2 separate regions of the Homo sapiens genome follow, and region 2 is linked to region 1. Evidence: fine-mapped expression QTL. A gene starts in region 1. The other region holds a variant in brackets. All regions are shown on one strand. Distances are from middle to middle.

Region 1 (5,000 bases):
CTTCTCCTGTGTGCTGGTGAACCAAGAGTCTAGGAGCTTCTTGCTGTAGTACAACTGCCAGGCATGCACTTGCACTGCCAACACCAACACCAGGTACATGATGGAAACGGCAGAAAAACCAAAGAGGAAACGGTAGGCCTTGCCATGGCGGTAGAGCTGCTGTGCAGCAGGGAACATCTCCATGCTGCCATAAATGAGTGGAGCGATGGAAAAGAGTCCCATGCTGATCATGGAGAGCACCAGGTAGCTAATGTTGTTGCGGGGAAAGGAGAGAAGGCCCAAGAGAGAGGGCAAAATGCTCAGCAAATACGGGTATTCCCACTGATAGGGCATGGCCACCTGATCATGTGACAAGAGCCTCAGGTGTCCCACGCTCATCTTAGCAACCAGCAGCAGCCATATGACCAGATGTACGTAGATCAGCTTCTTGATTTCATACTTGAGAGTCACACTGTGGGGCAGAGCAGAGGGAGAAGTATCTTTCAAATTTTTCTTACCACCAACTATATGCCAGACAACTGTACTGGACACTGGGATACAAATTTGAATAAAACAGCCTAGAAGCCGGACACAAAGAACAGAGGAGGAAAAAGTAATTAGAAAATGAAGTGAAAAAGTTCTAGTAAATATATGTTCCCAGATATATGGGATCACAGGAAGGAGGAATCAACTCTGCCTGGCATGGAATGTCAGAGATGGCTATCTAGAGGCAGGTGATATCTGAACTAGGCTCAGGAATGAGTGAAGATGGGCATCCCATGCAGGAGCATGCAGACAAAAAGGCCCAAGTATTTGTGTTCCAGGAAAGCAAGTGGTTATGTGTGGCAGGAACATATTGTTAGGGGGAGAGGGGTAGTGGGATATGAATCACAAAGACTATGAGAGTTAAAAGTAGAAGAGGCTGGGCTCACAACTCTAATCCAAGCACTTTGGTAGGCTGAAGCAGGAGGACTGCTTGAGCCCAGGAGTTCGAGACCAGCCTGGCAACAAAATGAGACCCCATCTCCATAAAAAAAAAAAACAACAACAATACTACTAATAAAAAGGCAGGGCTGGGCGCGGTGGCTCACGCCTGTAATCCCAGCACTTTGGGAGGCCGAGGCGGGCAGATCACGAGGTCAGGAGATCGAGACCATCCTGGCTGACACGGTGAAACCCTGTCTCTACTAAAAATACAAAAAAATTAGCAGCACGTGGTGGCGGGCGCCTGTAGTCCCAGCTACTCGGGAGGCTGAGGCTGAGAATGGCGTGAACCCGGGAGGCGGAGCTTACAAGTGAGCTGAGATCGCGCCACTGCACTCCAGCCTGGGCGACAGACCGTGACTCCGTCTCAAAAATAAATAAATAAATTAATAATAATAATAAAGGCAGAAGGGTAGCTCAGAGCTGTGTTTAGCAAGAGGACGCTGACTGCACCATAGGATTAAAGTCTGGCGGGAGAAGGTATTGGCAGAGAGGAAACGTACTCAGGCCGCCCATACTTCTCCAGCTAGATTTTTTCATCCAAAAGAAGTACATACTTATCTTATTCTTCTAATTCTCTCACGTCCCAAACGTATCCTCCTCATATCCCTAAAGGCAATGTTTCTACTCTGGGCTGGCATGAAAACACCTGCTTAAGTTGTGAGGGCCCTTTCAGCCGGGGCCTAGAGATGTGAAACAAATGAGAGTTCAAAGAGCTTGTCATTCTTTAAAACTCTGGAGAGAGAGATGTGAAGAACATTCTGGGAGAGATCAATGGATTTAAGGAAGTAAAAATTTTAAAATTTTTATTTAAAAATATTTATTGTAGAAAATGTGGAAAGGTTGGAAAAAAAAAACAGTCATCTCTAGACTTCAAGCTCCATGAAGGCAGGGAACAGTTTTTTTTTTCTTTAATAAAATTGTTTATTGAAGGTATAACATGTATACAAAGACCACGTCTGCTTTTGCTCACTATTATAACCTAGTGTCTAGCAGTGTATGATGTTTGGAAGCTCAGTATTTGTCGAACTAGTAATTGAATGTAGAAATACCCCTTACGTGGGAGTGTTTATAAAATTCATTTTAGGCAAGGCGTCCTTAGGAAAGGCTGCCTTTTACTGTCTATATCCCCCCAAACGGCCCAAAATATAACACCTACCATATATTACGTGGTAGGCCTTATGCTACTTTCTTTACACGAATTACTGATTAATCTTTCACCAAAACCTAAAAGGCAGATTATTCTCTCCCTCTACAGATGAGGAAGCTGAGGCTCAAATTAGAAATTCGGTTTCGAAGGTGATACAGCGGGGCCAGCATCGACGTGACTCGGGAGCCCACGCAGGGCGGGAGCCCACGCGGGGCTGGATCCCCTCAAGGCACCGGGCGGAACAAGGGGTGGAGCTCGCGGGGGCCACGGGGCTTTCCAGGATGGGGGACAGGCCCGAAGCCGTCACGGGAGGAGGGGACTTGGCAGGTGAGCGGGGGCTGGCTGGGGAGCAAGACCCTGAGGCCGGGCCGGCGTCGCTCCCCAAGCCCCGCAGGCTCCAGCGGGGGAGAAAGCCTCCGTGCTCCTCGCCTCACTTCATACCTCATCTGGTAGTGCATGGCGACGCGCTCCCGGTGCTGAAAGTCGCTGCCGTCGGTGCCGGCCGCTCGCGGGCCTGCTCGAGACGCCATTGTGCCTGCCCAGAACCCCCGAACCCCTCACGCGGACCTGGTACCGCAACGACACCGCCAAGCGGCCCACTGACCCTATTTGCGCCCCCGCAGCCGCGCGGCTCCGTGAAGAGAACTTCCGGCCCCTCTGTCTCTGGAGGACCGACTCTATGGTCACTCCTCTCCGCGCAGGCGCCCTCGTTCCCTCTCGCCCCCGCCCCGCCCAGCCCCGCCTCTTGTGGAGCGCGCAGGAAATTAATCCCCAGCCTCTTTTGCTGGCGCCCAGAGGCCGCTTGAACACTTTTACTTTCTTAAGCTGTAATATCAGTTAGGATACTTCTGTCCACACTTTACAGAGGGGGAAACTGATATATTCTATGACTTTCCCTGGAGCACACATCATTCACACAGCCTCACACCTTTAATCCCAGCACTTTGGGAGGCCGAGGTGGGTGGATCACTTGATGTCAGGAGTTCAAGACCAGCCTGGGCAACATGGTGAAATCCCGTCTCTACTAAAAATACAAAAATTAGCCAGGTGTGGTGGGTTCCTGTGACCCCAGCTACTTGGGTGGCTGAGGCAGGAGAATCGCTTGAACCAGGGAGGCAGAGGTTGCAGTAAGTCGAGATTGTGCCAATGCACTCCAGCCTGGGGGACAGAGTGCAGAGTGAGACTTTGTCTCAAAATAAGTTTCTCACATTTAATTATTGCAAAGAGAAACAGGGAATCTCTCAGTGAGGAAATCTGGCTTGTCTCCCTTAAACATATAGTCAGTTAATTTGATCAATAATGAGATAAACTGATATCTTGTGCCTCTTTTAATAGACTGAGGACACAGCATCACTTCTATGATGTTTCTGCCAAAAATACCTAACTGAATCTAATCATGAAGAAATGACATAAATCCAGACGGAGGGACAGTCTAGAAGAGAGCTGGACTGTACTCTTCAAAAATGTCAAGGCCATGAAAGAAAAATTATTTCCAAATAAACTTTATCTGTAGAGACAAAGTAGAATGACCATTGCCAGAAGCTCGAGGGGTGGACAGAGAATGGGGAGCTAGTGTTTAATGGGTACAGAGCTTCAGTTCGGGAAGATGAAAAAAGTTCTGGAGATGGATGGTGGTACTGATTGCACAACTATATGTGTGTGCTTAATGCCACGGAAACTGTACACTTAAAAATGATTAACATAGTAAGTTTTATGTTATGTGCATTTTACCACAACAAAATACTAAGCGAAACTTTAAAGAAAGAAGTTATATTATCCGAATAAAGAAAAAAAGAAAGAAAAAAGCATGTATAGTGAGCATCTTCCATGCACCAGGATGCTCTGCTATGACCTGGGGACGCAGAAATAAACATGGTCCATTTCCCCTGAGGGATCCCAGCCCAGTCGGGGGAAGAACTTGTACCCATGAAGCTAAGAAATTCAAGAAAACACAGGAGGCTGAGGGAGGAAAAATGAGGCCTCTCTCCCTGACCTGGAGGGTTAGGAAAGTCTCTCTGGAGTGGCAGCAATTGAGCTGAGGTCTGAAGCCTGAGTGGGAATTGGCTAAAGAGGTGGGGAGCGGAAGAGCTTTTCAGGCAGAGGGAACAGCATGTGTGAAGGCCCCAAATCCAGAGAGCACTTGGCTCTTCAAAGAACTGAGAAACTTAAGAGTGACTGGAGCATTTGGAGGGTTCAGTAAAGAGTTAAGTCTTTATCCCAGGGGGTTTGGGGAACCACTAAAAGGTTTAACCAGGAAAATGACACAGTTTTGCATTTTTAAAAGATAGGTCTAGGTGGGGGCACAGTGCCTCAAGCCTGTAATCTCAGCACTTTGGGAGGCCAAGGCAGGAGATCAGCCTGGGCAACATAGTGAGACTCCCGTCTCTACAAAAATAAAAAATAAAATAATATTAACTGGCATGGTGGTGCGTGCCTGTAGTCCAGGCTACTCGGGAGGATGAGGTGGGAGAATCATTTGAGACCAGGAGTTCAAGGTTACAGTGAGCCATGATTATGCCACTGCATTCCATTCTGGGCAACAGAGTAAGACACTGTCTGTAAATAAATAAATAAAGATAGATCTAGTTGCTGTGTAGAGAATGGCTTGCAGGGGCCAAGGGTGAAGCAGAGGAATCACTTGAAGGCTACTGCAGTAATTCAGGCAATCCTAGGGGTGGCTTGGGCTAGGAGGTGGCAATGGACAGAGAGGAACAGATTTGAGTTCCTTGGGATTTAACATCTGTAGGTGGGTAACAAGAGCACATATGACCAGCAAGGGGCTCACACTAGGAAGGGAGTCTGTGTGGCTGGGATCTGAGAAAGGCAAGCAAGAAATCAGCAACATTGGCCGGGCACGGCTCACACCTGTAATCCCAGCACTTTGGGA
Region 2 (5,516 bases), 26 kb after region 1:
TTCAAATGTTATTAATGAAGAAAACAAACATAATGAAACCAATCCCTTCCAGGCCAGCATGGGAATAAGGGGGTGCAGGGAGGGGGTACACTCTTGTTTTTATTTATTATGTATTTATTTATTTTTGAGACAGAGACTCACTCTGTCACCCAGGCTGGAGTGCAGTGGCACAATCTCAGCTCACTACAACCTCTGTCTCCCAGGTTCAAGTGATTTTCGTGCCTCAGCTTCCCGAGTAGCTGAGATTACAGGTGTCTGCCACCACGCCCGGCTAATTTTTTGTATTTTTTAGTAGAGACGGGGTTTCGCCATGTTGGCCAGGCTGGTCTCAAACTCCTGACCTCAAATGATCCACCCACCTCGGCCACCTAAAGTTATAGGATTACAGGCATGAGCCACCAAGCCCAGCCTTGTGTTTTTTGTTTGATTGTTTTTTGAGACTGAATCTTGCTCTGTCACCCAGGCTGGAGTGCAGTGGTGCCACCTCGGCTCACTGTGACCTCCGCCTCCTGGGTTCAAGCGATTCTCCTGCCTCAGGCTCTGGAGTAACTGGGATTACAGTCACCCACCACTATGCCTGCCTAGTTTTTGTATTTTTAGTAGAGACAGAGATTCGCCATGTTGGCCATGCTAGTCTCAAACTCCTGACCTCAGGTTACCCGCCCTCCATGGCCTCCCAAAGTGCTAGGATTACAGGCGTGAACGCCATGCCCGACCTACTTCGTGGTTTTGACTTGCGTGCCCTCTCATTCCACCCAGGGAAGCTTTCCGCTGGGCCCTCTTCAGCATGCAGGCCACAGGCCACGTACTGCTTGGCACCTCCTGTTACCTGCAGCAGCTCCTCGATGCTACGGAGGAAGGGCAGCCCCCCAAGGGCAAGGCCTCATCCCTTATCCCGACCTGTCTGAAGATACTGCAGTGAAAGCCCAAGTCCTTGGAAGCTTTCCCCAGTGAAGGACTGACTGGGGGCCTCACGCTTAACTGGTAGTGCCCACAAGCCTGGCAGCTGTAGAGCCGCGAACCTCCCCACACCTCCCTCACCGCGCAGGACCCTGAGTGAGGAGGAGGAGCTGGAAACCTGGGGTGGGTTGGCCAAAGGAGAACCTCAAGCTCCTGGCCTGATCCAGCTCCTTCCTGCCCAAGGCAGCTTAGCCCATCCAGACTGGTCCTGAAGTCTGTCCCTCCATTGGCATGAAGTCTGCCCCTTAGCAATCTGGCCTCGCAGGCTGTACTTTCATGGTGCTCTCTACCTTCTGGCCCCCATCCCGGAACATTCCTGAGTGAATTCGCAAGCGCACTAGCATGTGATATTAGGGAGTTTGCAATAAATTATTGAGGCTGATGTATCTTCTTTGCCTGTGTTCTTTGGGGTGGGGTTTTATCTGGAAGGTTGGAGGGGGCTAAAGGAAGAGACGAATCTATTGTCAAAGTATTCTCTTTAATGTAGGATTACAGCTAATGGCACTTTTTCTACCAAAGAAGAAAAAAAAAAACAGCTGGGCACAGTGACACGTGCCTGCAGTCCCAGATACTCAGCAAGCTGGGGTGGAAGCATCCCTTGAGACCAGGAGTTCAAGGCCAGGCTGGAGCACAATAGCAAGACCCCAGGCTCCTTAAAAAACAAAATTGCAGTTGATTTTGAAACTAAAGTCAGCTGAATTTGAGGCTTGAGCTGACCATGTAATTGATACCATAAGTAACAATTTCCTAATTAAATTCACCTATCAGAGGAGCTTCAATTGAGCAGGTGGGATTAAGTCACTCTTCTAATTTCTCAGTGTCCCATTTTATAATAACCGTTTAAGTGGTTAGGTGAAAAAGTACTACTCAAGCTGTAAGGCATTTCTCCATCAATGCCCATCCTAACTTGCCAGACAGCTTATCTTTCATGTTCAGGACTTTCAACCTCGGGATTTCAAAGTGGGCTCATAGGTAGCCCCAAAGAGTAGGAGCTTCTCATCAGTGTGAGCTGGCATTTTCCAGTATTGGACAACTCAAGACAAGCATGAAAGGCTGAACTTAGGCTGGGCATGGTGGCTCACGCCGTAATCCCAGCACTTTGGGAGGCCGAGCCAGGCAGATTACCTGAGGTCAGGAGTTCAAGACCAGCCTGACCAACATGGTGAAACCCGGTTTCTATTAAAAACAAAAAAATTAGCTGGCCAGCATGGCAGGCGCCTGTACTCCCAGCTGTTTGGGAGGCTGAGGCAGTAGAATCGCTTGAACCTGGGAGGCAGAGGTTGTGGTAAGCCAAGATCGTGCCACTGCACTACAGCCTGGGTGACAGAGCGAGACTCCATCTCAAAAAAAAAAAAAAAAGGCTGAACTTGTAGAACTTGTAG[G/A]TGACTGTTTTATTTAGTCTGTGACTGAAAGATTTAAAAACTTGGCCAGGTGCAGTGGCTCATGCCGGATATCCCGGCACTTTGGGAGGCTGAGGCAGGAGTATCGCTTGAGGCCAGGAGTTCAAGAGCAGCCTGGGCAACATAGCCAGACCCTGTCTCTACACTAGATAATAAAAAAAAATTAGCAGAGCATGGTGGCTGTAGTCCCAGCTACTCAGGAGCCTGAGGCAGGAGGTTCACTGGAGCCCAGTAGGTCGCGGCTGCAGTGAGCTATGATTGTGCCACTGCACTCCAGCCTGGGCAACAGAGTGAGAGCCTGTCTCTGGGAAAAAAAAAAAAGAGGATTCAAAAACTCTATCACAGCCAGCCGCAGTGGCTCACGCCTGTAATCCCAGCGCTTTGGGAGGCCAAGGCGGGTGGATCACAAGGTCAGGCATTTGAGAGCAGCCTGGCCAACATGGCCAAATCCCGTCTCTACTAAAAGTACAAAATATTGGCCGGGCATGGTGGTGGGCACCTGTAATCTCAGCTACTCGGGGGGCTGAGGCAGGAGAATTGCTTGAACCTGGGAGGTGCAGGTTGCAGTGAGCCGAGATTGTGCCATTGCACTCTAGCCTGGACGACAGAGTGAGACTCCGTCTCAAAAAAGAAACAAACAAACAAAAAACGAAAAACAAAACAAAACCTATTGTTTCACTACTCTTACTATAAAGCCTATTTGGATGTAGTAAATACTAAGGCAAAGGCCTATATTACCAAAGATGGTCTGGGAGCTATTTATGGCAGCGGACCCAAACCCTGCAGCCTATGGGCAAAGCGGCTGAAGCTCGCTGAAGAGGGCCTGCTATTCCGGGCTCTCCTGCTCTTTTGCAGTTATGGCTGGAGGCTGGCCCGGTGCCAGGCTGGCTCCATGGGGTGGGCTGTCTGGCAGGGAGGCCTGATGTTTGTATTAGCACAGAAGCTATCCCAGTCCACCCTTGATGAAGCTGTGGCGGGGCCTACCTGCTCCTTCCGTAAAGTGCTCAGTAACAGAGTTGGAGTGGGGGTGGGAGGCTCGGTATTTGTCCCAAGCTTCCCTCCTCCTGAGATCCGGAGTTTCACAAGTGAATCTTGAGCAACTGCCCATGGTCTCTTGGCATTGAGCCCAGGGAAAACAAGGTTCTTTCTTTTCTTCCAGGAGCTCGAGGCTAATGGAGTCAAAGCAGCTGTGGTCAGTGAACAGAAAAGGCAGCCTCTGATGAGGCTTGGGGGCTGGGGAGGGAAGATTCCAAACAGCAAAGGAGTTTGAGCCTCTGTAGGGCCTGGCGGTCCTAGTGGGGGAACGGCCTTTCCTGGGGCCCCCCGCACAGCCAGGAGCAGCTGTCGTCAAGGTGGACTGTGTCCCAGCCCCTCCAGCTCAGCCTTTTCATCTGTTCAAGCTGGTGCTCGGGAGTGCACAGGATGCCTTTCAGAAGAATTCTAAATCCCGGGGGCCTGTGATGCCACAGTCACATGTCTGAGCCCAAAACAAGAGAACCACTTGTGTTTTTGCCACTCTTCTTACCAGCGATGCCCATATTTGTGCATATAATTTTTTTTTTTTTGAGACGCAGTCTCACTCTGTCGCCTGGGCTGGAGTGCAGTAGTGTGATCTCGGCTCACTGCAAGCTCCGCCTCCCGGGTTCATGCCATTCTCCTGCCTCAGCCTCCCAAGTAGCTGGGACTACAGGCACCCGCCACCACGCCCAGCTAATTTTTTGTATTTTTAGTAGAGACGGGGTTTCACCGTGTTAGCCAGGATGGTGTCGATCTCCTGACCTCGTGATCCGCCGGCCTCGGCCTCCCAAAGTGCTGGGATTACAGGCGCAAGCCACCGCGCCCGACCCATATATGTATTTTTTGTGGGGTGGGGGAAATACTGATTCTGAGATGTGTGCTGCCTGGAATCCCATGGCCACCGTGACCAGGGTTGTAGGGGGCCCAGGGGCCCAGGGTCTTTGATGTCAGCCGCATCTCCTGGCCAGCATTGACCCAGGGGTCCCACGTCAGCTGGTTTAGTGGGGGCCGCTCCCTGGGGTCGAGGCTGAGGAATTGTTTTACTAGTGTTTCCAGTGGAAACGAAGAAATAGGTGGAGAGTCATACTGTCACATAGCCTGAGGCGGGAAGGGACCACGGGTGGGGCTGGATGTTCTTTCAGCCTCCCTGGCAGAGATCACTGACAGAGTGGTCAGCTTGGCCAAGCTTCTGCGGTGGATGGCTCTGATGTAGGGGAGGGAGGCAATCCCCAGAGCAGGAATGGGTTCCCAGGGGCCCCTATCCTTGCAGGGGAGGCGCTGGCCATCCTCCCCTCAGAGCCTTCTTCACTGCAGCCCGTAGGGGGGCGAGTGACCTGGAGGATCCGTGCCCCAGGGGCAAACCTCTGGGCTCTGGCTTCAGCCCCACCCGGGAAAACATTCACAGCTCCTCCGGAGAAGCGCCCTGCTGCAGGAAGACTCTAGGGCAGGGCCCAGCTGCGAGGCTACTGGCCTGTTGGTGACAGTACCCCAGGCTTCAAACTCTCTGGGCCTGTTGGCAATTCCCTTCCCTGGGTACAACAGATTCCCACCCGGCCCGCCCTTCTGCTCGCCCCACGGGGAAGTGGCCCAGGAGTGGAGGCGTGGACAGGCATCCCGATGGCTCAGAGTCGGGGTCAGCCTGGACAGCACGGCCTCTGGGGGTCAGACGGGGAGCGAGGGGAAGGTGCCAGGCTCCAGGACAGCCCTTGACAGGCGGTCTGACGGCCTCGGGTCTCCTCTTTTCTGGCCTCGGGGACGGGGCCAGGCGGCGGTGAGCCGCGGGGGGCGGGGCTTTAATGGCCATCGGCCCCACCCAGCCTGCGCTGGGAAGCGGAGACAGGGACGCCCCTGCTCCAGCAGAGCCTGACCCCTGCGGGCTGCCGGGGCCGCCTCCCTCTAGGCGCTGCTGCGCCCACACGGACAGGCGCCCTCTGCGGGTCCCGCGGCTCCCGGCCCCATTCAGCGCCTCCAGATGCCTCACCCGAGCCCTCTCCGCTGGGTCCCCGGGGCCTCAAAGCGCCGACCAAGCCGGGGAGTCACTCCCCTGAGCCACCCGATCTTCCCATGGATCCTTTGGATCCCTGGGTTTTGGAGTTTGTCCTTCCTAAGTGCCGCCTGCCTGGACGCGACTGCCCCAGG

Evidence for each region. PIP is the estimated chance that this variant, and not a neighbour inherited with it, causes the effect.
Region 2: its variant is the best candidate, but not a certain one, in a credible set for the expression of JAGN1 in subcutaneous fat (GTEx, PIP 0.84).

What each region holds. Positions count from the first base shown.
Region 1 is chr3:9,888,366-9,893,365 of GRCh38, reverse strand. JAGN1 (jagunal vesicle mediated transporter 1) reads right to left here and starts at 2,756. Exons shown (of 2, transcript NM_032492.4): 1 at 2,555-2,756; 2 at 1-451. The coding sequence starts at 2,643.
Region 2 is chr3:9,862,540-9,868,055 of GRCh38, reverse strand. It overlaps CIDEC (cell death inducing DFFA like effector c), which reads left to right. Exons shown (of 7, transcript NM_001321142.2): 7 at 760-1,342. The coding sequence ends at 922. Among named protein-coding and RNA genes, the nearest start is that of CIDEC, 15 kb to the left of the region's middle. RefSeq lists silencers at 3,677-3,971, 5,077-5,371. The variant G/A (reference allele first, on the strand shown) is at 2,343.